Linked DNA regions of Homo sapiens. The protein of the gene in region 6 interacts with the protein of the main gene of each other region in a biochemical or structural test. Each region holds a gene or a part of one and is shown on either strand. Other genes may lie near its edges.

Region 1 (3,500 bases), on a different chromosome or scaffold from region 6:
TCTGGAGAGTATGGGAATTTTAGACAGGCAGCAGGGTCTGTCTCTGTTCTGAGTGGTTCTACAACCCGGGAACAGAGCTGCCTGCTATCCTGGGCTGACTGCAGACGGTTCTAGAACAGTGGGCAGAGCTGGCCAGTTCTAGATTGATGGAGGGAATTCCAGAACCAAGAAGCAGGGGTCCACTGTGGTTCTAGAATGTTGTGGAGGTTTCGAAATTGGAGTGGGGGGTGGAGCGTCGTGGCTCACGCCTGTCATCCCAGTACTTTAGGAGGCCAAGGCGGGTGGATCACTTGAGGTCGGGAGTTTGAGACCAGCCTGGCCAACGTGGCGAAACCCCGTCTCTACTAAAAATACAAAAACTAGCCAGGCGTGGTGGTGGGCGCCTGTAATCCCAGCTACTCATGAGACTGAGGCAGGAGAATCGTTTGAACCCAGGAAGCGGAGGTTGCAGTGAGCTGAGATCACACCACCGAGCTCCAGCCTGGGCGACAGAGCGAGACCGTGTCTCAAAAAAGCAGGAGTGGGACTGTCTGGTTCCGGCCTGATCATGGAATTCTGGGGACACGGGGTGAAGGTATCTGTGGGTGCTAGATCTGGCTTTGAATCCAGCCATGGCCTGGACTCACTGGTTTCCCACCTGCGAGTCCTTGAGGGATGGACAGAAGGTTCTAGACCTGTGAGGGCCAGGCTGCTTGGATGGTTCTAGAACAGTGGGCTGTGCTTCCTGGCTGGAGAGTGCTAAGCCACCAGCTAGAACACTGTGTCTCCCGGCCATCTCGGAGAGCGTAGCCCTGGGGCAGAGCCTGTGGGAGTGGGCCCCTGGGGGCCGACCCTCTTCGCTGTCGCCCTCAGTGCCTGGTCCCTGTGACCATGAAGACCTCCTGGACGGTGTCATATTTGGGGCCAGGTACCTGGGGTCCACCCAGCTGGTGTCGGAACGGAACCCGCCCACCAGCACGCGCATGGCCCAGGCCCGGGAGGCCATGGACCGCGTCAAGGTGAGGGGGCGGCCGGGGCCGGGCGGGCAGGCGGGTGGGCTGCAGGCTGGGTCTGTGGGGGCCTCCACCTCCCACGCCGCCACCCACAGGCCCCCGATGGGGAGACCCAGCCCATGACGGAGGTGGACCTGTTCGTCTCCACCAAGAGGATCAAGGTCTTGACAGCGGACTCCCAGGTACGGGGCAGGGACCCGCCCCAGGGATGCGGGTGGGGTGATCGAGCCTGGCACGGCCCCCCAACCCACCCAGGCTGCCTCTCCCGCCCCAGGAGGCCATGATGGACCACGCCCTGCATACCATCTCCTACACAGCCGACATCGGCTGCGTGCTGGTGCTGATGGCGCGGCGGCGGCTGGCACGGAGGCCGGCACCCCAGGACCACGGCCGCCGCCTCTACAAGATGCTCTGCCACGTATTCTACGCGGAGGACGTGAGCAGCCAGGGCGCGGGGCCACCCTCCTGAGGCCCTCCTCACTGCAACTGTCGCCTCCCTCAGTGGGCCGTGCATTTAACCTCCCTCCCATAAGCTTATTTTTAAATTCTTTTTTTGGGACAAGGTCTCCTTCTGTCACCCAGGCTGGAGTGCAGTGGCGCAATCATAGTTCACTGCAGCCTCAACCTTCCAGGCTCAAGCGATCCTCCCACTTCAGCCTCTCTAGTAGCTGGGACCACCGGGGTATCACCATGCCTGGCTAATTTTTGTATTTTTTATAGAGACACGGTCTCGCTCTGTTGCCCAGGTGAACACGGTCTCAAACTCCTGGGCTCAAGCGATCCACCCACCTCAGCCTCCCAAAGTGCTGCAATTACAGGCGTGAGCCACCGCGTCCAGCCTCCTATAAGACTCCAAGACTCTCGGCCGACTCCCCGAAACCTTGCCCGCTCCTGGGCTGTCCCTGCCACCCATGAGGCCCCAGGCCCCCTGGCTGGGTCTTTGATAGCTTTTCCCACAGCCCATGCGCAGGGAGCTGCCTCCCTCATCGTCCCCCCAGCCCAGGGCTGCCCCTCCCCTTCCTTCTCCCCGTAGATTCCCCAAGATGCGGCTGTCTCTCCACCTCCCCCAAAGCCCCAGGGCAGAAGGCTGTGTCCTGGGACTCTCACCCCAGGTGGGGACAGGAGGGCTCAGCTCTGAGGACCCTGGGGACTTTGGGGACCTGGAGGAGGTGGGTGGGACACCCCAGGGACGCGCCACTCCTCCCCGCAGGCCCAGCTCATCGCCCAGGCCATTGGCCAGGCCTTCGCCGCCGCCTACAGCCAGTTCCTACGGGAAAGCGGTATTGACCCCAGCCAGGTGGGCGTGCACCCGAGCCCAGGCGCCTGCCACCTCCATAATGGGGACCTGGACCACTTCTCCAACAGTGACAACTGCCGGGAGGTGAGTGAGGTGCTGGGCAGCCCCCACCTGGTGCCCCCCACACCCGTGCACCTGCACCGGGCCCTGCTGAGCAGCCTCCGCGCCCCCTGTGTGTCCCAGGTGCACCTCGAGAAGCGGCGAGGGGAGGGCCTGGGCGTGGCCCTGGTGGAGTCGGGCTGGGGCTCCCTGCTGCCCACAGCCGTCATCGCCAACCTGCTGCACGGGGGGCCTGCTGAGCGCTCGGGGGCCCTCAGCATCGGGGACCGCCTGACCGCCATCAACGGGACCAGCCTGGTGGGGCTGCCCCTGGCTGCGTGCCAGGCCGCTGTCCGCGTGAGTTTCCTGGTGTGGCAGGGCCCCCACACTCCCAGGAAGGGGAGCTGAGTCCCAGAGAGGTCTCCTCCCTGGCCAGGTCTCTCCAGCCCAGCCAGGAGGGACAAAGTCGAACTTTTAAGTCCTGCCCACTGGTGTGCCCTTGGGGAAACTGAGGCCTGGAGAAGGGAGGCCACTTGTCCAGGGCACCTCCCTAGTACCAGAGCCAGGATGGAAATGCGGGTGGCCCAGCTCCAGGGCTGGGCCACTCTCTCTCTCTAACAAGAAACAGCTAATTTCTGGGGGGGTTTGTTTGTTTGAGACAAGGTCTCACTCTTGCCCAGGCTGGAGTGCAGCGGTGCACCTGGCTCATTGCAGCCTTGACCTTCTGGGCTCAAGCAAATCTCCTTCCTCAGCCTCCCGAGTAGCTGGGACCACAGGTGTGCACCACCACGCCCAGTTTATTGTTTTATTTTTTGTAGAGATGGAGTCTCACTATGTTGGTTGGCCAGGCTGGTCTTGAGCTCCTGGCCTCAAGTGATCCACCTGCCTCGGCCTCCCACAGTGCTGGGATTACAGGTGTGAGCCACTGCACCTGGCCATGTTTTTGAGTCTCAACCTTTGTTGCTCAGATGGGGAAACTGAGGCCCAGAGATAGGGAGGGACCTGCCCCCGTCAGAGGAATGAGGCCACAGTCCGTGCAGCCTCTTACAGATGTTTGCAGCCTGCCTGGAGAGCCCGGCTGTCGGCTTGGCTTTTGGCCATAAGGAAGCGATATGGCTCGGGTCAGACAGCTTCGACCCCATGCCCACCGGGCCCGAGTCTGTTCTCTATCA
Region 2 (3,500 bases), on a different chromosome or scaffold from region 6:
TTACAAATCCTTTTAAAGACACACTGAATTTGAAGAAAATTTAGACTAGGGTATTGTTAATTGAAAAGCTGCTTTTTTTTTTCTTTCTGTTTTGAACTTCAATGAAATACAAAGTACAGTCCTAGAGAATAGTGAACCATGTTCTAGGTTTTCTACTTCTGTTAATGTGCCTAATTCATTTGCAGAGTGAGAGTAGAAAAAGCTTTAGGCACAGACAGGAACCTTGAGCTTCCTGCCTCTACCACCTGTCACAAATGAATTTGGATGAAACTATTTTCATGATCCCTTTCAGCACCAAAATTTGGGGTTTCTTTAAGGTTTAAGACGAACGCATTAGAGTAATGAAAATGCCTGTCTGACTGGGATGTTTATATTTTTCATGATTATGTCATTTCTTTGCCTTGGCCTATAGTAAGTTTGTATGTGAATGCTTTGCATGAGGGTCATAGCTACTTGGTTTACCTTGAAATCAATGATTCAGAAATTGCTTTTTGTGTTCCAGTTGCATGTAGCTGTGACTCCTTTTAAAAGTGTGGTAACAATGTGGTAGGAATTTAAAAGCTTCCCAACTTTAGACATAGATTATTTTGATCCTTTCTGAACTGGATTCATAAACTTTGGTTCCAAAGAACAGCAGCTGTAGAAGGGAGCCAGATCTTGACTCACTGTTGAGGTTCTGCTTCTTGAGAGATTTCATATTTAGTGCAACCCAATTCCTTGGTTCGTTCTTCTCCCCCAGTACTAGATAGCCAAGTTGGGTGGTAGGAAGGAAGAAAATATGCAGCAAGTCGAGTCTAGTTGTCATGCTCCTTTGGGCCAGAAAGGACCTTAAAGATTGTCTCGTCATGTTGTTCCTATACCTTTTGTTTTCGTCTACCTGTAAAATGAAAAAAAAAAAAAAAAGCAAATATTAGGGATTGTCAGATATGTCAGCATTTAATGTTGCTACATAAGTGTGTTTAAAATTGACAACAGCAGTTACTACCTATTGTCAATGCATTTCGTCAAAATCCTTTTGATGTACCAAAAAAGAGAAAAGGTGGGGAAAGGGGGAAGAATATGTATGCTGTCAGACTTAAAGGAGAGTTCTTCCTATCCAGAGAGGAGCTGTGTTAAAATTACCCCACTCGTGGATTTATATCTATCCCCACACAGACACTTTTTTCTTTTGCATGGGTCAATGAAAAATTCACTAAGGACCGGGGTTTAGAAATCACTGAGTAGCTCAACTAACCCTTCTTTGATATTTGGATCCTTTTATATAATCTCTGTAAGTGGTCTTCCGGTAATACCTGAACATTGCAAGTAACGGGTGGTGATTTCCACCTTTTAATGGTTTTGAGTACTAGAAAGTTTTTTGGCCTATAGAATTGAAATCTGATTCTGCTTGTTTATTCAAATTCTACTGCCTTGGTGGCCTACAGAACAAATCCTTCAGTCTCTGTCAGAGTTGGGCTCTTGGTGTAACGTGACCCGTGAACATGACCTGTGTAGAGTACAGCAGGAGTGTCTTGTCATAGGTTGCATGTTGCTTGCACTGATGTAGTCCAAGTTTGCATTTACTTTTCTGGTGGCCAGACTCAACGAGTTTCCTTTTCGCTAAAACCTGCCGAGCCGTTAATCACATGCTGCCATTGAACCTCGTCTTTCCATCTTGCGCTGATGTCATTGCAAAACCTAACATTTATTGCGCTGTGGTTTTGCTTTATTTTAGCTGATTCTTTCCATCATGCTTTTTAGAATTTGATTATATTATTTGGCACCTTTACCTGTCCTCCCAAAGAAATGCTGTCTGTACATTATTAGATCAGACTCTTTTATATCTTTACTTAAGCCGGTGATGAAATTGTTAAACTGGCTGAACAACACGAAGTGTGTCTCTGGAAGCTTCCCTCGAGGCTTACAAGGAGTCACACTCTCGGTTATAGTTAACTACTAATGCTCTTCATATCTTATAACTAGCCCATATAGCTCCACCTTTCCACATGGATATCCTGAAAGAGTGTGTCAAACCTCCTTTGCTGGTTCTACTGACCAAGTTATGCTGAGTAATAATGAGTTCATTTTCAGTGTGTCCCTAGTAACGAGCACTCTCTTCTGCATATGATTAAGAAAATGTGTTAAATGACTGACTGGATTGAGACACTAGGGTCACACTGTGATCTGTGACCTCCGGAGGCCTTAGGAACTGCAGTGCTTCTAGGAAAAATCAGAATATTGTTGGACTTTCTTCAGCTTATTTTTTGGTTTGGTATTCTCTTGTGTTGAATTGCTTTCAGATAGTGGGGAAGAACACCACAGTCTCTTCCGGTTTTGTTTTAATTGGTTGATATACTTCTCTTCCTATTTTACTAATAAACATTTAGCCAAAAGGGGTGTCTTGAACTCTGCCCATTAGATTACTCCATATTTTTCACTTCTACATATTTGCTTAATCTTCTGAGAAATATCCCCATTTAGTTGAGTTCCTCAAGAAATCAGAACAGTCCGAAGTAAGCTATCTGGTAGTTTATTCAAACTCTTAAGTAAAAATATCTAGGTAAAGAGCCAGTGTTAAAAATTGTTATTGTGGAAAGTAAGAACTCCTGGGTGAATAAAAGATTATGTCTGCTGAGATGAACTATTGTGTGGAGTTTTAAAAGAAAGTTCTGGTTAATGCTTAAGACATAGTGTCCTGTGAAGTCAGCATAACTACTTTCACTGTCTTCTGGAGGTGGTTTTGATAACACATTTGGTTCCTTGTTGAACAGTGGGTATTCACATTGTTCAGGAATAGCTTTGGGATACTGTCCTCTCCGTATTGAAGTTTCTAATAAGTAATTTTAGGAATTATAGTTTTGATTCTTTGTACAGGGCAAATGCTACCTGTTTCAGGTGTTTAAATGGCCTAATGCAAGAAACAGTGGTTTCTTTTTAGCAGGTTCTCAAGGTTCTCAAACTTTTTTCAACGTGCATCCCATCTATACACAATTGTCTAAGTGTTCATGTATGTATGCGTATACATGTATACATATCTGCATGCACGTTTGTGTGTGTGTATATGTATAATATATCTGTATGTATAAACATATACTTTACTGTGCTAAGATATTATGGACATAAAACAAATGTACATTTTAAGAAGATTAATATTAAAAATAAATAGATGTAGAAGTATTTTCTCTGCATCTCAAGGGCATTTGTATCTTTGAAATGTGTGGCCCCTGTGTAGAGACCACTGTTGTACTATCACTGGTTAGAGTTTATAGCAGTTGAGAAATGGAATTTCTAGGGAGCCTGTAGGGTCTTGTGAGGCAAGCGGAAGACAAACTCCACTCTTGATGGGCCTTATATTTACTGTGTATTTATTCTTTTTCCCGAAGACATTTCTGACTTTGGCCTGTTTTCTTCCAGAATTGCTTGTGGGTCTTGGTTTGGGGTTTCATTTATTGAGGGGTAGGAGGTTAATGTAATGGCGATGCTATTCTCCTTAGAAAGTTTCTAATTGAACTCAGCTGTTT
Region 3 (3,500 bases), on a different chromosome or scaffold from region 6:
AGGGACCCAGTGTTTGATATTTTGTTATAGCACCCGAAATGAACTAAAACAGGGGCCTAGCAAGGTATAAGAGAAACTGGACATATCTTAAATATATCGGAAAGGAGTTTTTAAATTGTAGAATAATCTTTAATCTTTATGACTCTATCATCATGGTTTTGTTACGTTAGTGATATCTTATGAACACAGAAGGATAGCTTCTCATGACCATTTTCTATGACAGTTCCCTGAAGCAAGGTATCCTATGGAGCCACCTGAGTACACAATATAAAGTTACTGTGAAATTAACAATATAGTGAATTGGTTAACAAAGGAGTAATTTGGTGCTGAAATTATTCAAATAATTGCCATTCTGTATATGTTACAATTCAGATTATCAAACACACCAAGAGTTGGAGAGGGGATGATCTGCATCATTCTAGATCAGCTCTGGCCAATGGAAATATCATGTGAGCCACATATGTAATTTTGTCTGTAGCCACAGTAAAGAAAAAAGCAGAAGTAGGTGAAATTAATTTTAATAATATATTTTATTTAACCCACTTTCTTCAAATTATTATTTCAACATATAATCAGTATAAACATTGACTATTAACACTTAATTTTAAGCAGAAATCAAAATTTTTTAAAATACGTTCTCCACTGGTATCCTACATGCCACGTGGTAGTGAACTGTATCATATCTCTTCAAAAGACCTGAGACATCAGTTCAAACAAATGCTATTAGTATCAACTCAAATTATATAACATTTAATAATCTCAGATCAGATGATGCTCATTTAGAAAGGCAGCAATTGGTGAAATCTATTGATCAACAGCTGCTCTATCCATTTGTTATATCAAAATAACTTAAATATCTTCATTTTCAAAATATGTGTCTTGGGGATTTTCTTGTGGGAGTGGTATCTGGGTGATCTAATTACAGGCAAGCTTTCCGTCTTCTTTTCACTTGTATCTTCCATACCTTTTAAAATGTGCTATTTACTAAAATAAATAATTACCTTATGTATTTTATTATCAAAATAATTTTAAAACATAAGCAACAACATTAAGTTTTTTCTTAATTTTTTTTTTTGGTAGTTGATGTTACTGGGTTTTTTTTCTTCTTTTTTAATAAATGTTTCATTTTTCACTTTCCCCTCATGCACTTATTTATAGCACCTTGGATCTGGAGGCAGAGTGGTTTACAAGAAAATAACAATGAATGTTGCTTTTGCAGACACAAATAAAACTAAAAAGTGGATAAAGATAAGAATTCCCTAAACAAAACAAATTTAACCACCACAGGCAGACAGGCCAGAAGAAAAAAAGTAAGAGTTTGTCTCCTTTTATTTATTTATTTATTTTTAACTTAGCTGGCCAGATTGGGAAGAATGGCTCTAATGGTTTCATTAACTCAACAAATAAAATTGCAACACCTAAAAAACAAAAAAAAAAAAAAGTTTTTATTTTATGTAACATAAATTCCCTTTTATTAATCATATTTTCCCAAAAGGGGGAAACATTTCTGAAGGAAAAAAGATTATGCCATACATTACCCCACAAAACACGTATAAGACAGACAGTTTTTAGATCAATGGAATTTAAAGAATAAATTCTGTTGTTTTAATCAGACTCAAAAACCACTGAGACATTTACAACACAGTGTTTCAGCTTTGCCAAATTTAGCGCTTTACTATTTTTAAGAACCATTAAAAGAAATATTTTAAGAAAACGAATGCTTTTATAAAACACTTAAAAAAAAAATTAATGCTCTGTCCACAAAAAGGCCACAGAGGCACAATTTCCCAATGAACATCCAGAGAAAGAAAATAAGTGGCCTCAGGCCAAAGATAAAATACCTTTGTCCTCAAATAGCAGCTTCCCTTTCTTGCCAAACATCAAATTACCCCAGTAATGCTCAGACTATGCACTAGCCTCCAATACGAGCTCACTGCCTCAGAGTCTCACTAGTTTACACACTAAGTCTCTTTGAGAACCTTGTTATGAGCTAAACTGTGTCTCCTAAAAATTCACAGGAAATCCTAATCCCTGTACCTCACAATATAACTGTATTTGGAGATAAAGGTTAAATGAGGTCACTAGGGGTGGGCTCTAACACAATATGACTGGTTCCCTTATAAAAAATTAGGCTATAGACATACACAGAGGGAGGGCATGTGAAGAAACAGGGAGAACTCAGCCATCTACAAGCCAAAGAGCGAGGCTTGGTAGAAACCAATCCCACCAACACTTTGATTTTAGACTTCCAGCCTCCAGAACTGTGAGGAAATAAATTCCTGTGGTTTCAGCCACCCACTCTGTGTTATTTTGTCAAGGCAGCCCTATCAAACTAATACAGATTTTGGTACCAGGAAATGGGGTGCTGCTGTAACAAACACCAAAAATGTGGAAGTGGCTTTGGAACTGGGTAATAGGTAATGGCTACAAACGTTTTAGGGTGCATGTTAGAAAAAGCCCAGATTGCACTGAAGAGGTTAACTCTCAGAAGGAAATGTGACTTGGGTTATTGGAAAGTGGAAACTTCAAGAGATAAAAGTCAGCCTATACTTCATTGCTCTCCATTAATTGCTCTTCCCTATCCAACCTTTTCCCCTGGGCACAAATCCTCTATTCCACTCCAGAAATATACAAATTGAATATGCTCTCCAGTACCCACTGCCCACTCACATCCCAGCCTCTTCTATACATGTCCATTTTCAAGGGAAAACCACTGACTTAAGCTCTACTTCATATCAAAAAAACTTTCATTTCCACCCTCTCATCTCAAGACCAAAGCCTTTCTGTGTCTTATTTACTAACCTCAATGATAAGAGCAACTAATCCCTATACTTCACTACTTTCCTAGAATCCCTGTAACATTTTTAACATGTAAAACCTTTCTGTTATTTCTCCCATTAGATTCCTCCAACTAAGACCCTACACTTCTGGAGCAGAATCATGTTTATTCTGTACTCTCCCCAATGCCTAACCCAATACAACATTCTTCCTAATCCATCTATTACTACCTACTACATGAATACCTCGGATCTTCTCTGGAAACGTATCACAGGAAGGCAATGGATTCCTCACCACTGGTTTCCTTTATCGAGAAGTAGTTATTTACCTCCTTAGTCTTATTCTCCCACATGGAATCCCACTAAAATTATTTAATCACAGTATATCAATTTTACCATGCTAAATATCATTTCCGAACTGTACTTATATAAATGCTCTCCTATGCATGACACTAATTTACAAGAAAAAATGAAACCTTTATTGTTATAAATATGGGGTTGATAATGTACGTAACAATATCAAATGAAATCCTACTTTAGGCCAAATATCTATTTTCAAAAGTACATACAACTGTTTTGGACATATATCATCACTCATACGCACCATCAAGCAGTCCTAAATTCACCAGGAAGTTGTCTGCTTCTTCTCTTTAAAGTGTAGGATCTTTCTCTGGCAGATGTGCTATTTGCTCTACCATATTTGGGGACATTCCAGTCCAACTT
Region 4 (3,500 bases), on a different chromosome or scaffold from region 6:
AAGTTCTTATGAGAATCCTCTCTGCCCCAGTGTCCTGAGGGAAATAGGACAGAAAAGCAATATCTTTAATGGTCTCAGGAAGAAAATGGGCAGAAAATGAAAGAGAGTTGACAGGAAATGAGGAAAATGAGTTATTTAAAAATATTGCACAGATGTACAATACTGCCCCCAGCAACTCTGTAGATCATTTCCAAGAATCTAGAGAGTATTTGAAACGTTAAAAATGTTTAAAAAAAGCTAGAAAAAGCACACAAAAGCTTCCACATTCTCCCCGAATAAAATACACACGCAAAAAAAAAACATACAACAATGAGATAAATTGAGTTCAATGGAAAAATATGGGTGATATAAAGACAAGATTTTTTTTTTTTAGTTTTTTTTTTGCCACTTTATAGCATGTACTGATTAAATTACATTTTAAAAGTATGGTATTAAAATGTATTTCTTTTCCTGATTTCTCTGGAAATCTGTTTTTTTTTTCTATAGGCAATTAGCTTCCTTCCAGTGTCATGAAGGTTTCTTTAGGATCAAGGGGCTAATGCAGATCATAATTTTGACAGGCAGGACAGCATCCTATGGAGTCAGACAACCATCTTTCATCAAATGTGGAAAGGGAAGTCTCATTTGAAAATTCATCCTTCAGCATTGACTCTTTTGGAGAAAAAGGTCAGAAGTGTAGCCAGATACTCAAATTTTCCACTGGTTCTACCCAGCATATGTATTCCATCAAAGATTAACAGGATCTGGTCTATGTTATTAATTTCTATTATTTCTACAGCCCATTATGGCCACTATGTGGCATAGTTTAAGGAAATGCTTTAGTTCTAAATTAATGAGGTTCTCTAGCAGTTACATGGAAAGGGCAGGGAAACCACATTATAACATAAAAATATCTTCTCTACAATAGAGATGGCAACTTCAATTTATCATAAATTTCACTAATATGCATTTAGCCCCTTTATTATGTTCTTTTTTGAAGAAAATGGGAGCAGCGAGATAACTGGGTTGAGAAATTTCCAGATAATTGGTATAATTTCATATGTATTTAAAAATTCACTCCCACATAGGCAGTGTGGGGGTTTTGTGGGCTTTTTTCCCCACTCCTAAGACCTCAGGTGTGTAACTTTACTCTGCCCCAGGCTATGGCAGACTTTATGAGAACCATTTAGAATGGGCAAGGGCATAAACGAAATATATGCAGAAAGGGTGATCTTTTATAACCACTATATTCAAGTCAGGATTCAGTCTGACACTGAAATACACTTACTCAATGTAATTTATAGATAGTATGTAGTTACTGAGTCTGAAAAATATCATATCAATAACCGAGGAGACAAATGGCGATATAACTAACTTTATTCAAACTACTGACAGATAGATAGACTGGTGACAATGTTTTGTCCCTTCTGCCTTGTGATGGGAGATAAAAAGGATATAAAAGGAAGCCCCAATAGTACTTTTTTTCCATTACCTTTACTCTACTTTCATGACATCTTCTTCCATAAAGATCTAAAAAATTCATTTAGAAGTTATCAGTTTTTGGCTGGACAATTGTTTTGGTCACACTAAACTTGGAAACAATTCATTTACTATACATGGAACCAGATCATGCTATACAAGACATTCTAATTGATAAAGTTATTTTAAAAAGATTTAAGTTGATGACTAGATAGGCTAGTGTTTCTCTCGTGGAGCTTCTTCCAAGATATCTTCATATGCCATTTAAGTATTTTCAGATGGAAACTTAAAGCAAGGATCCACACAGAATTAAAAGGATCCACACAGCCATTTTTCATTTGAGTATTTATTTAAGTAAGTGGCAAATTGAAGGAGAGAATCACAATTCAATTTGGTATGCTTTTCCCCCCTTAAAAGGGATATTTAGCTGCCATTCTATGGAGCAATATAAGGAAGTCTTTAATGTGTAATACTTTTGATAAATTAGGAAAGATCAGTCTTTATTGTATTTTGTATACCTTAATTGCTTTCATATCTATTTTTAAAATTCACTCCCACATAGGCCATCTGGTGGGTTATATGGGGAGAGATAACCGTGATAATGATTTGATAGAGAATAGCAGATAATGAATATAATTCATTCACGAATTTACATTCAGTGAATTCAATGAATATAAAGTTCAGTCTCAAGGCTTTTGATCTCTGTTCTGACCTGAATCTCTGGCCTTGCAACAAGCAGCACGATTCTCTTACACTCATCGTTAGACAGCAAGGCCACTGCTTCTTCTCGATTCTGGACATCTTCCCCATTTATCTAGAAAACAAATGAGAGTGGCACATTAGTTTCCATTTCCACAATGCTGCACACAATAAATGGCAAATATCAGCTCATTTATGGTAAATGTATGGACAATGAAGCTCACACAATGGGCTCATCTTCAGCCCCTCAGCTCAAAGTGCCTTCACTCAATTACGCGCTTACTGTAAGAGCCATATCGATCCGTGAAGGATGGCGGACATCAGAGGAAGCAGTTATGTTCATAAATGTCCAACCTGCGCCCTGGCAACATACATCTAGCAACACAATTAACCAGCTCCTGACAGGTGACGTTCATCTTTCTTCGCTCAGAGTAATGGAAGTGTCACTCTGAGATAATAGTGCTGGGGGAAGAAGGACTGGCAATACCACAACTGAAATCCGTCATCCTGCACGCTTGCCGCGAGCCAATTAGAGAGCTGCAGTATTATCTCTCACCAGGCAATGCTCCCAGGCCACTGCTGATTGCATTTTTATTTAATCATTTCATATTTGCGTGTGGGTCTGACCCAGTTGCCCAAACATCATCGTCAGGATAAATCTCAGTGTTTAACTGATCAAAGTAAAATAACATTCTCATCAATACTCCATTTCCCTTCTAATATCTATCCATTTCCTAAAGTAATACAACTAATGAAATATCTTCAGACTCATCTCTTAAATTTAAAAATTTAAAAAATATTAACATAGAGTAAAATTGAATTTTTAAAATAATGATGAGTGAAAGAAACCAAGCTTGACTAAACTTTAGATTTCATGGAAAAGATTCCAGTGACATTAGAAATATATCTTTTTACTTTTTCTAAGTTCTAAAGAAAAAGTAAATAAGATTTGTAAAGTTTCTTTTTTTAAACTACATTTTCATGTGCAAATATATTTAGCTCTTAATTAATAAAACTTTTTCCTTTGGATATTTAATAATTATTTTCTTTTATTGATTACTCAACTCCATAGAGACAGCAAGATTTTTGATTTATAATTATATGTAATCAAATAATGGGAAAGAAATTCCAATTAAAGAGATCAAGTAATTCTGTCTAAAATAGTATTAATTACTTGAATAAATGAAGCAGATGGAAAATGTAGCAGCACTGACCATTCTTTTTTCAATAATCTAATGTCTTTCACTAAGGACTTCTGCTTAAAAGCATGAAGTAGACTATTGAGGTTTTTCTCCTCATAGGTCTCTGGGTTTCTGGCTGATGCATGAGGACAGACATAATTA
Region 5 (3,500 bases), on a different chromosome or scaffold from region 6:
AACATTCTCTGATCCACAGCACATTCAACTCCCACCCTTTTCATGCCACTTTCACATACCCTATTCTTTCTACTTGGCTACTCCTCCCTATAAAACAACTTCCCCCTTGTACCTAACTCTAGAGACCCTTAAAGATCTTAAGGTCAGAGGTTCTCATATGGCAACAGTCCTTCCTCCCTAAAACGAAACAGTATCTTTCTCCCCTTTGCAATAATCCTTTCCAGTGAAGTCTCTCCTTCCTCAAGCATGGCTTGTTTTTTATTTGGCATTAGAAATACAAATTCTCGGGCCCCACTCCATACTTTCTGAATCAGAAACTGGGGGGGGGGGGGGCGGGGGGTGGAGGGCGATGTACCCAATAATGCATTTCTCACAAGGTCTCCAGGCACAGTGTGGGAAGCACTGATTTGAGGCCATCCTGCTAAGAATCTGATGAGTGCATTCAACACTTTAATTCTCTCCCGCTGGCGTTTGACAGTTTAGGTGCAAGCTGTTTCTGAGGCTTACGGTGGAAAAGTTCTTAGCGTCCCCACAGACTACTTCCCGTAAAGTCACTACCCAAGGGCACACAAGGCCATGGGGCGCCATCTTCCCTCCCACCGCGTGGGGCCGAGGAAGCCCAAACCCGCACCTACTTACATCTCCGTCCATCGGCCTCTGGTCGTCACAGTCCCTGGTGGGGCTAATGTCCTGGCGCATGACCCAGATGGGCTCTTTGGGCTCGTCGGGGGTGTAAGGCGAACGGATGGTCCTGGTTTTCACCTCCTCGATGGCCTCCTTGATGTCCTTGATGGCCAGCGAGATGGCATCGCGCTTCTCCTTGCTGTACCGCTGCCCCGCCTCGCCGCCGCCCGCGGGGCCCACCGCCCGCTGCTGCCCCGCCGGCGCCTGCAGCCCGGGGCTGTCGGGGCGACCCCCGGCCGGGGTAGGGGGACGCTCCAGGTCCTGCTCGGCCTCAGGCATGTCCTCGGCTGCCTTGTCGAGGCTCTGCGAGCTCATGCTCTGCTTCACCTCGGCCACTATCTGGTCGATGTCCTCCTCCTGCTCGTAGCTGTCCATGCGCGGGTAGGGCGCGAACTCGGCCTCCTTCTCGGGGCTGTCGGACTCGCCGTCGGAGCGCTCGTCGTAATGGTGCAGCCGCGCGCCCAGGGCCTCCTGGCGGTACGCGGCCGCCTCGTCGCGCTCCTGCTCGTAGAGCCGCAGGCCGTCGCGTGCGTCCAGCTCGGGCGCGTCCCCTATCTCCTCGTACACGTGCTCCTGGAGGCCGCCGTAGTCGGCATAGGGCTCGGAGTAGGGCTCGTCCTCACCGCGGTGGAAGAGCCGGTGCGTGTAGACGTAGCCTGAGTAGGCCGCATTCATGGCTTCCTCGTGCTCCAGCGAGTGGAAGTGCAGGTGGTTGGGCAGCGCGCGGCGGTGCGTGGCCTCGGCGTGCTCGGCCTCTGCCTGCTCCGTGTACTCCTCGGCCTCGGGCCGGTACTGCACAGCATAGGCGCTCTCGTCCTCGGGGTCCTGCGCGCGCTCCGCATCGTAGCCGTCGCGGGCCGCGGCGATCACGTCGCCCTCGGCGGTGTCCGTGTGGTTGTGGAAGCCGCTCTCCGTGCTGGCTGAGCGCGCCAGGCATTCCCCGCGCTCCTCTTCCTCCTGGCCGAGCTGGGCGCGGAGGTCCTCGAGGGCTCGCCCGCGCTGGTGGCGGCCCACATAGTGCTGCTGCTGCGGCGGCTGCTGCTGTTCCTCTTCCACCTCGGGGTGCTCCAGGTCGGCCTCCACCGACTCGTTCACCTCCCCACCTGCCGCCTCGTCGGTCACCTCCACCTCCGCAGACCCCTCCAAGTGGTTCATGGTGGGAGTCGGAACGGCTAGGAGAGAAGCTGGGCCCGGCTCACTGCGCTCTCATTTTGCTCCACTGGGCTGGAAAAACAAGAAGGGGAGAGGCTGTCACGTGGTGCAAACAGTCGTTATGAGCTGAGTATTCAGATAACCATAAAAACAACTGCTATTGATTCCTTTTAGTTCTGGGTCAATTAAAAAAAGACTGCAAATTTAAGTTCAATCTGACAGCACATACATAGCACGCATCATAATTTGTAATTACATATCTACTTGTTTAATTGCTTATTGCCTTTCTCCGTTCCCACCCCTCACACTGAGCGCCTCAGGAACGTTTTGTTCTCCACCACGCATACGATTCAGGTCCCATTTCTGATGCATCTGAATAAAGAGTACTACTAAATTGAATGGGCCAACTGACACATTTTCCATCTGCTAACAGATAAATCTCTCCAAATTAAACTAGGATCCTACAACTTTAGAAATCACTCTTTACATCAATTTCAAAGAAACATAATCTTGAACACCTTTTGAAGCCATTCTGAGAGAGGCTATCAGCCAGCAGTGGGGTCCCGCCCCGGTTCTGTCATTACTGACTTTGTGACCTCAGGCAAGTGGCTTAATTTTCTGGACCTCCACGGTGTGACTGGACTCATTTCCTACATGCAGGATGTTAACAGCTATTATATAGGGTAAAAAAGACTCGGTGGTCAAGTAAGTTTGGAAAATGCTGAGTTACAGTTGACTTTTCATTGTTAATATCCAGAAGGAGGAAGATGCAGGACACAGGGTTTCCCTAACTTGTTTGACCAGGAGACACTTTTTCCTAGAGGCCAATGTTACATAGCAGCTGGTTTCTAATAGTTAGGCTTCCCTATTGCGCACTCAGCATCCAGGATACAACCAACCACGGAAGACAATATTAGGGGAAAATATCCAACACAATACAACAATAAAAAATAATGCAAGTAAAAATACAGTATAACAACAATTTATATAGCATTTATATTGTATTAGGTATTATGAGAAATCTAGAGATGATTTACAGTATATGGGAGGATGTGCATAGATCATATGCAAATACTATACCATTTTATAATGGATTTTTATATCCACTGGGGTCCTGAAACCAACCCCCATGGATACCAAGGGAGGACTATATTCACTTTCCCCATGTAACCTGAATCTAAAATTCTAAGATTTTATGAGTTGCCATTATAGCTAGAACTGGATAACAGGTGTAATTTTTTAAAAATATGGGTAGGTCTCTTTCTATTTTCAGAGAAACTTGTAGCTCGAGAGAAAGATTTGGTTTCAGTCTCTCTCAATTCTTCTTATCACAAAATAGCTTTATGGTATAATCTGTGCAGTATATAGAAATAGACACAAAGAATGTAAACAACCACAACAAAACAGGCAGGACCCCTATGATTTTGAGATCCCTATGGTAAATAGGCTCAACAGTATGTGTAAACTTGCTATTATGTTCTTTTGGAGAGCCTTTCTTACAAATGGACACAATGGATGGGAAGTGAACTCTTAAATATGATAACAGACAACCCCAGGAGGACCAGGGACATCTGATGGACTCTCTAGTAGTGAGATGCATTATATTCTACTCAACTCCCCATCACAACCACAGCAATTTCCTTCAAGCATTGATGACCATCCCA
Region 6 (3,500 bases):
GGGCCACGCTCAGGTACTCGTGGGTCAGCCTGTTGAGGAAAGGCAGGCCCAGCTCACCCGCCAGCCCCTGACACCTCAGGCTCTTGGCTTGCTGGGCCAGGCCTCCCGTTCTGTACAGGCTTAGCCCACAGGTATCGTCGTCGGCCAGTCCTCCTGCTAACCCCTGAGCGGGGAGACACACAGCCTGTGCTGAAGCTGTGGGTGCTACTGAGAGGGGAGGCAGCCTGCTCAGGTCACACAGCAGGGGCAAGGCCAGGGCTGGGCAGCTGAGCTCCCTCACCAGCCACCGAGCTGTTCACAGTCTTCCTGGCCCCCAGAAGCCCCCTCCGCTGGGCATAATTCCAGGCTTGTGGGCAGGGACAGGCTTACCGGGTGAGTTCCTGGAAAAGGTCTTTGCAGGGACCCTGCTCCAGCCGCTGGGTGCAGTTCGTCACCAGCTGCCGGGGGACCTCAGGGATGAGGTCAGGACCCTGGGAACAAGCCCCAGACAGGTCAGTGCAGGGGCTCCCTTGGATGGCTGCCCACTTCCAGGGGAGAGGGGTCAGGCAACTCGGGCTGGTGCCATGAGAGGCTGCAGGCCAGGGTGTGCCAGCCAGCCTGGTTGCTGAAGTCCTTCCTGCTGCCCACCCATGAGGCAGAGCGCAGCAGAGCCACTGGGAGGCCGCCTGGCCCAAGCCCAGCCCATACCCTGGGCTGCATGCCCGCCGTGCTGCCTGGAGCAGCTCCAGGGCACTCTCTGTCCAGGCTGTGTGTTACATGTGTCTGTATGAAGAGACCACCCTCAGAAGCCTGACACTGTGGTCACTCCTGTGCCTGACACGGGGCTCTGGTGGCTCCCATCATCTCTCCATCGCTGCTCACTCACCGTGTGGCTCAGAAAATTCTGCGTTAGCTGCCGCCCACATGCCTTCCGCTTGTCATCCGGGGTCACTTCATACTCGGCCTGCAGGGTGGAAAGCAAAGAAGCTGGAGGTCTGGGCAGGGCAAGCAGCAGGTGTGGGGAGGAGGGGCACATGGGGCCAGGACCTCGGCCACCCGCGGGGCTGGGCAGGGCTGGGCTGCACTCACCACCCCATCCAGGAAGGCGACGCAGCGGCTCAGCTCCGGCCTCGTGGCACAGAACTCTCGGAACAGCAGGCGCCCAATGGGCTGCCGCTCGCACAGGCTGTGATAGTCACGCTCTGTTGGCAGTGATGGAAGCTGCTGGGTCCACAGCCCGAGAGCACATGGGTGGGGCATGTGCCCACACCACCAGGCCCTGGGCCCCCACAACAGCTTCCAGCTCTGCAGTGTGGTAGCCACAATCTTCTTCAGAACCCTCACCACAACCCTCAGGTGGGCACAGCTGTTTTGGGGCTGTGAGGCCCAGAGAGGCTAACTGACTAGCTCAGTGTCACACAGCCGGGAGTCTGGCTCCAGAGCCCAGGCCTCCATCCACCTCCCTGCATTGTCTCCTGATTTACACGACTTGCGTATGTCACGGTACTGGGGTTGGGTGCGGTCCGTGAGGTTCCGGCCCAGCCCAGCCGGGGCCAGGCCCACACCTGCTGCCTGCCTGGCGAAAGTGCGAGAGGAAGCTGTGGCTTCCGGCAGGCTCTCAGCTGGGCCTCCTTCCCAGGAGGTGGAAGCAGCCCGGGTGTGCTCTGCGCACGTGCAGGCCACCGGGGGCCTCAGCAACCTTGGGTGCTGCTCAGACCTGGGGCCTTGGCCAAGATTGGCAGGAACTGGGGTCCTGGGCCCTTCTGTCCCCTCCCAGGAGTAACCCTGTCACACTGCCCAGGCTGAGGGCTTCTGGTCAAGGATTTGCTGGGCACCCCTCAGGGCTGGGCCTGGGAGGCTACGCCCCAGCCTGGGGGTCCCAAGGCAGTCAGTCTGTGGGCTGGCCCAGCTGCTGCTCCCTCTGTCCTGTGGGCCCTGCTCACCCTAGCTGGCTCTCCTTTTCAAAGTGGAATCAACTGCCCCAATCTGCCCCTGCCCTATTCCCGACACCCGCTTCAACCACCCTCGGTGTGACCCTGTTTGCTGTCTGCTCTCCACCCGTCCCAAGCCCAGGAACTGAAACTGGGCTGAATGGTGCAGTCCTCATCCTCCTGCTCACTGGAGCCCCCAAGTCTGCCCCTCTGCTCCGGGGCAAGGTCTCAGGGGAGGCTCCCCCGGCCCCAGCAGGGCCCCTCGCCTCAGCACCCCCAGTCTCTGCCCAGGCCTCACCGAGGCTGAGCCGCAGCTCTTCGCACTGGCTGATGTGAGGGAACTGGAGCATCTGCCGCCATTTCTTGCTTTTGCCTTTGCGATTTCCACCGCCACCTGTGGGAGCAATAGGACACTGGGTCTCGAGTCCCACTGCCTCAGAACTGCCTCTGGGTCCTCAGTGCGGTCCACGGCCTCTAGGGCCCAGCCAAGGCAGAGCTGAGGCAGAACAGCACCTCAGGCCTTCCCTCTGCACGCTCCAGCACGCCCTTGCTGCGTTCCAGGACACACGTGCTTCTCCTGCTTCAGGCTCCTGCACTGGGAGAGCCAAGAGAGGCAGTGAGGTCGCTGCGGGAGGACAGTGTTCCAAGTAGCTCCAACAATGGGTCCAGCCCCAGTTGCTTCCCGCCAGGTAGGAGTTCCCCCGGTGAAGAAAGGGGAGAAGGACGTCACAGTGCTGAGAAGTGCAGAAGGCCCGGGAGGGAGAGATTCTAGGCCAGTGGGGCAGGCCTGAGAGACGCACAGGGCAGCATGGGGACAAGGAGGCTCCCAGGCCTCTATCACCAGGCCCCACATCAGAGATATCAGACGCTCAAATGAGGCAGGGGCAAGGGGGCTGGCACCCAGGACTCCCCGTCCCCTGCACACTGGGGCTTCCCCGGTCCCCTGCCTGTCTTGCTTGACCTCGCAGACACCCCATCTGCAGCAGCTGAGGTCACAGCAGCAGTTCGATTGCCTGCAGAGCCCAACAGGTGTGGGAAACGTGGGCCAGATGTGAGATGACCAGGAACAGCGAAGGCCTCTCTGACAGGGCCAGCTGCAGGAGAACGCCAGCTGATTGCTTGATTGCTGCTAGGAGGGTTTCTGGCTCAATGTGGCCAGCTCTTCTGATTTTTTCAAAAGCAGCCGGAATTGCAGACTCTAACATAAAATATTGGCCCCCATTTTGTTTAAAAAAAAAAAAAAACTCACTGCAGCCAAATAAAATGTGTCAGGGAGCTAGCCAAATGTGTGTGGCCTGTGGGCCACCAGGTTGAGGAGGGTGGAAGGGGCCTGAGCCTCCCAGAGCTGGGTCTGAATCTCTGATTCACACTGTGGCCCATCACTCGCTATCTGTGAACCTCAGCTTCTCCATGTGTGTTACGTAGTGAATGGGAGACACTGTCCACATCAAGTAGGGCTGAGTCAAGAGGTGAACCCCAACTCCAACAACGCCATGGCAACCTTAGACAACCACTTTCTCATGCTGGGCCTCAGTTTCCCCTCTGGCTTTCTAGTCCTGTATCCATCTGGCCTGGGTGAGGGCAGGTGGT
Region 7 (3,500 bases), on a different chromosome or scaffold from region 6:
GTAATAATAAAAGCAATTTTTATTAATTATCTATGATGATATGGACATTGTACTATGTATGTCCCTATGCAAGTCTTTAACAATGTAAATTCAGCAATTATTATATTACTAAGTTTTCTATATAAGATAATTTACTTTTATTAAAGGAAATATAACAAATACTTACTAGAGACAGAAGAGAGCTGAGAATAGAATGGAGTAAGTAATAATAAAGTCACTAAACTAAGGCAGTTGTATGTTTGTTGTCATAATATATAGCCAGATTATAGCTAGGAGAGATTTTTAGAAATTAATACTGAACCCTGGAGCTTCAAGGTAGATGTTTCCATTGAACTGTAAAATAGGATTAATTCAACGAAAATGCTAAAATTATGGGGAAGCTAGCAGTGGAAGTATTGTTGGTTGCTTCACCTTGTAACAGTATTAATACACAGACTTACTTATATTGCATTTCTTTCATACAAAGTATGAAAATACTATAAAATAGTATTTTAATAGTACTATAGTACGTTAATAGTATTTAAATAGTATTTAAATTTAATGGTATTTTAACAGTACCATAAAATACTATAAAATAGTATAGTATAAAATACTATAAAATGCAATACAAATAGCCTTTTAACTTATTTACATTGCAATACTCACAAATGCAAAGTATTATTTTTGCTGAATTTGATGCATTTCCTCTTTATTATACATTGTTGACTGTGAACACTTAAGAGTTAACTTTTATTATTGTTATTCTTTATGAGGTGCTTAATTTCTAGCTGAGAAGTAAAAGTTCAACAGCATGATACTTACTCTTAACTACAATGATGTATTAATATAAGAAGTATAAACTCCTAAACTTAATAAATTCTAATAGGATTTCTATGTTGTCAAGTTTAGAGTAAATAATTCAATATATTCAGCAATTCTTTGGGAGTAAAGATATGCGGTATGAAGAAAACAAATTACTATGTAAAAATAAACTATGTCTAAAGTATAAAATAAATATAAAATAGCAGATGTTTACACATAAAGGGAGGATCAGTGGAAGTTATTTTTAAAAAGTGAAAATATTTTCCATTGTATTTATTGATATTATTCTTCAAATAAATTCTTTTCAAATAAAATATTTATTTCATTCTGCAAAAAAACCTTAAAATACAACTTGCAAAATACTCTATATTAATGTCAATCATTTCATATTTTTCAGTTAATTTGAATTGAGTAAAATATCTTGAAAATTAAAAACACCTCATAATGTCACTAGCTCAAAATGACCAATATGTTTGCAATAGCATTTACTAAAATCTACATAATGCTTATCACCTGCCAGACACTACACACTTTAAATACATAACTTATCTAATATTCTTAAGGTGCCATTACTACCCCAGGTTAGTTATCTTGTACATATAGCTAGCACTAACTGACATACTCAGGAATTAAAACTAGGTGGTCTACTTAGGAGACTGTACCTTTAACCATTGCTCTACCCCACCTTCTGAGGAAAATGATTCTGCCAGGGTCTGTATGTATTTGAAAGTCATTAATTAAACTATAATCAATCAGAGATGTCAAATGTGAATATGCTTTTCTCATTATGAAAGTGAATTTGTGAGTTACAAGCAATGAAAAGGAAAGTGAGCATAATAAACATGCCAAAAGATTAAACAGTGTAAATGTTAAGAATAGGGACAGTACAGATAAAAAGCAAATAATCATATTTAACATTCGAGGTCATACCATTTAAATTATCTACATGTACCAGAAAACTACAGTGGTATCACTTATAAATTATGCCCCAAGAGAACCGTCTCATTAACCTTGTTCAAAACATTAATGGTACTTTATTTCTAAAATAATAAACTGATCAAAATGTTTAAACAATGTTTTGTTTATTAAACAACACTATTCATATACCTCACATTTCTACAGAAAAAAAGTCAATCTTTATTTTCAGAAAATTTGACATAATTTGTTTTTACCTTTTCAGATACAAAGGAGTATAGAGATCTGACTCTATTATTCTAAGCCTGAAGTCAGTCAAGAAGAAAGTATGACTCTTAATAAATGTGGATCTACTTTCCTTTGAAGGTATCTTTGAAAGGAGCAGTAGGAGGGAGAGCAATGTAGATCTTCTCTAAAACTGAATTTCAAAGGATTTATTTGGCCCATCTTCCACATGGGAAGAATTAGAATTTTTTTTTTTTTTTGCCTTTTATTTCCCATTGTGAGACCCTAAATGGGAAAATAAGTCCAGGTTATGTAGGTCTCTATGTGGTATTAGATGCAATAGCAGCCATAGTGCAAGGAATGTAGGCCACAAAGGCCTGTGTAACTGGCTGCTGTGAACTTTAGTGGCAAACCTTAAAAAAGGGAAAAGAAAAAGGAAAGAAGACCTTTAGCACTTCCATATAGATCTCAACATCACTCAAAAAACTTTCTTCAACTGGGTCTGATGCATTAACGAGATCATAGAATTACTGCTAATTTAGAATTACATACTTTGGTGAGGAAAGTTTATTATTACAAATAAAATGCCATAGTTTATAAAAAAGAATTGGATGTGACAATAAGCCATATTTTAATATGTGGTTTATTATTGTGTGGATTAAAAGCAGAAAGCTTAAATTAAAAAGATAATTCCTTGAATTTCATTAAACAGTTTTAAAAATTGTTTTGCAGGTATTTAAACAGTGTAGAAACACTGTGAGATATATACATATATATATATATATATATAATGTCTTAAAATCCCAACATTTTAAAAGGAGCTCACCTCCTTTTAAAATTATGACAGATGAAAATTATGATAACTGTAATGTAAAATTAGGCAAACAAGTAAATAAAATTAAGTAAATAATGCAATTTTACCTGGTGCACTTATTAACAATATTCTTATTATTCAAATCTTACCTTTTCTTTATAAAATCTTCCTTAAACTATGATAATTCTTGTAGTTTCTGTATAATACCCAATGTCTGAATGAATATTCAAAAATCAGTCTCATTAATGTTTTAAAAACGCAACTGCTAAACAAACCATGTTTAAGTTTTTCAGCTATGCTAGCTTTTGCATCTCTTGAAACATAACTACTGGGCCAAGAGTTTCTAAATGATTTTCCAGTAAATGACATCTGTATTGAAACCTAAGACACACAGGCACTATAGTAAAGGTTCTGAAAAATTTCATTTTTTATAATCATAAATAAAATTAATCTATGATTTGACGAGGAAAAGAATTATTAGAATAGCAACATGAATCATATTTAAAAGAATATACAAGAGAATTAATTATTCCACAAAAGGTAAAAGAAATATTTTGTTTTGTTTTGTTTTTGGTCAGCAGTGGTTCAGGAGATGAACCAACTGTGGGCTCTCTGGCTATCATTATACAAATTTATCATCAATGAACCAGTGAAGCACGAAACTGAGGGTTAATATAGAATGAAAAGAGACTTTCCCCTCAATATATCACTTTAGAAGCATATATTCTGAGTTCTAAAAGCAATA

What was found.
Region 1: the proteins of GRK6 (region 6) and APBA3 interact in a test that uses a peptide from one of them, tested with the Homo sapiens proteins (one large-scale study listed by IntAct).
Region 2: the proteins of GRK6 (region 6) and SIPA1L2 interact in a test that uses a peptide from one of them, tested with the Homo sapiens proteins (one large-scale study listed by IntAct).
Region 3: the proteins of GRK6 (region 6) and MPDZ interact in a test that uses a peptide from one of them, tested with the Homo sapiens proteins (one large-scale study listed by IntAct).
Region 4: the proteins of GRK6 (region 6) and PDZRN4 interact in a test that uses a peptide from one of them, tested with the Homo sapiens proteins (one large-scale study listed by IntAct).
Region 5: the proteins of GRK6 (region 6) and APBA1 interact in a test that uses a peptide from one of them, tested with the Homo sapiens proteins (one large-scale study listed by IntAct).
Region 7: the proteins of GRK6 (region 6) and MAGI2 interact in a test that uses a peptide from one of them, tested with the Homo sapiens proteins (one large-scale study listed by IntAct).

What each region holds. Positions count from the first base shown.
Region 1 is NC_000019.10:3,751,693-3,755,192, reverse strand, and holds part of APBA3 (amyloid-beta A4 precursor protein-binding family A member 3), read left to right. Parts: intron 1-852; coding exon 853-998; intron 999-1,087; coding exon 1,088-1,174; intron 1,175-1,266; coding exon 1,267-1,428; intron 1,429-2,202; coding exon 2,203-2,373; intron 2,374-2,472; coding exon 2,473-2,685; intron 2,686-3,500. UniProt on the Homo sapiens protein: May modulate processing of the amyloid-beta precursor protein (APP) and hence formation of APP-beta. May enhance the activity of HIF1A in macrophages by inhibiting the activity of HIF1AN.
Region 2 is NC_000001.11:232,623,634-232,627,133, reverse strand, and holds part of SIPA1L2 (signal-induced proliferation-associated 1-like protein 2), read left to right. Parts: intron 1-3,500.
Region 3 is NC_000009.12:13,273,193-13,276,692, forward strand, and holds part of MPDZ (multiple PDZ domain protein), read right to left. Parts: exon of another isoform or gene 3,382-3,500; intron 1-3,381. UniProt on the Homo sapiens protein: Member of the NMDAR signaling complex that may play a role in control of AMPAR potentiation and synaptic plasticity in excitatory synapses. Promotes clustering of HT2RC at the cell surface.
Region 4 is NC_000012.12:41,562,320-41,565,819, reverse strand, and holds part of PDZRN4 (PDZ domain-containing RING finger protein 4), read right to left. Parts: intron 2,273-3,500; coding exon 2,171-2,272; intron 1-2,170.
Region 5 is NC_000009.12:69,515,372-69,518,871, forward strand, and holds part of APBA1 (amyloid-beta A4 precursor protein-binding family A member 1), read right to left. Parts: intron 1,909-3,500; 5' UTR 1,840-1,908; coding exon 640-1,839; intron 1-639. UniProt on the Homo sapiens protein: Putative function in synaptic vesicle exocytosis by binding to Munc18-1, an essential component of the synaptic vesicle exocytotic machinery. May modulate processing of the amyloid-beta precursor protein (APP) and hence formation of APP-beta.
Region 6 is NC_000005.10:177,429,676-177,433,175, reverse strand, and holds part of GRK6 (G protein-coupled receptor kinase 6), read right to left. Parts: intron 2,305-3,500; coding exon 2,209-2,304; intron 1,466-2,208; exon of another isoform or gene 1,240-1,465; coding exon of another isoform or gene 1,182-1,239; coding exon 1,069-1,181; intron 944-1,068; coding exon 866-943; intron 471-865; coding exon 370-470; intron 30-369; coding exon 1-29.
Region 7 is NC_000007.14:79,447,168-79,450,667, forward strand, and holds part of MAGI2 (membrane-associated guanylate kinase, WW and PDZ domain-containing protein 2), read right to left. Parts: intron 1-3,500. UniProt on the Homo sapiens protein: Seems to act as a scaffold molecule at synaptic junctions by assembling neurotransmitter receptors and cell adhesion proteins. Plays a role in nerve growth factor (NGF)-induced recruitment of RAPGEF2 to late endosomes and neurite outgrowth.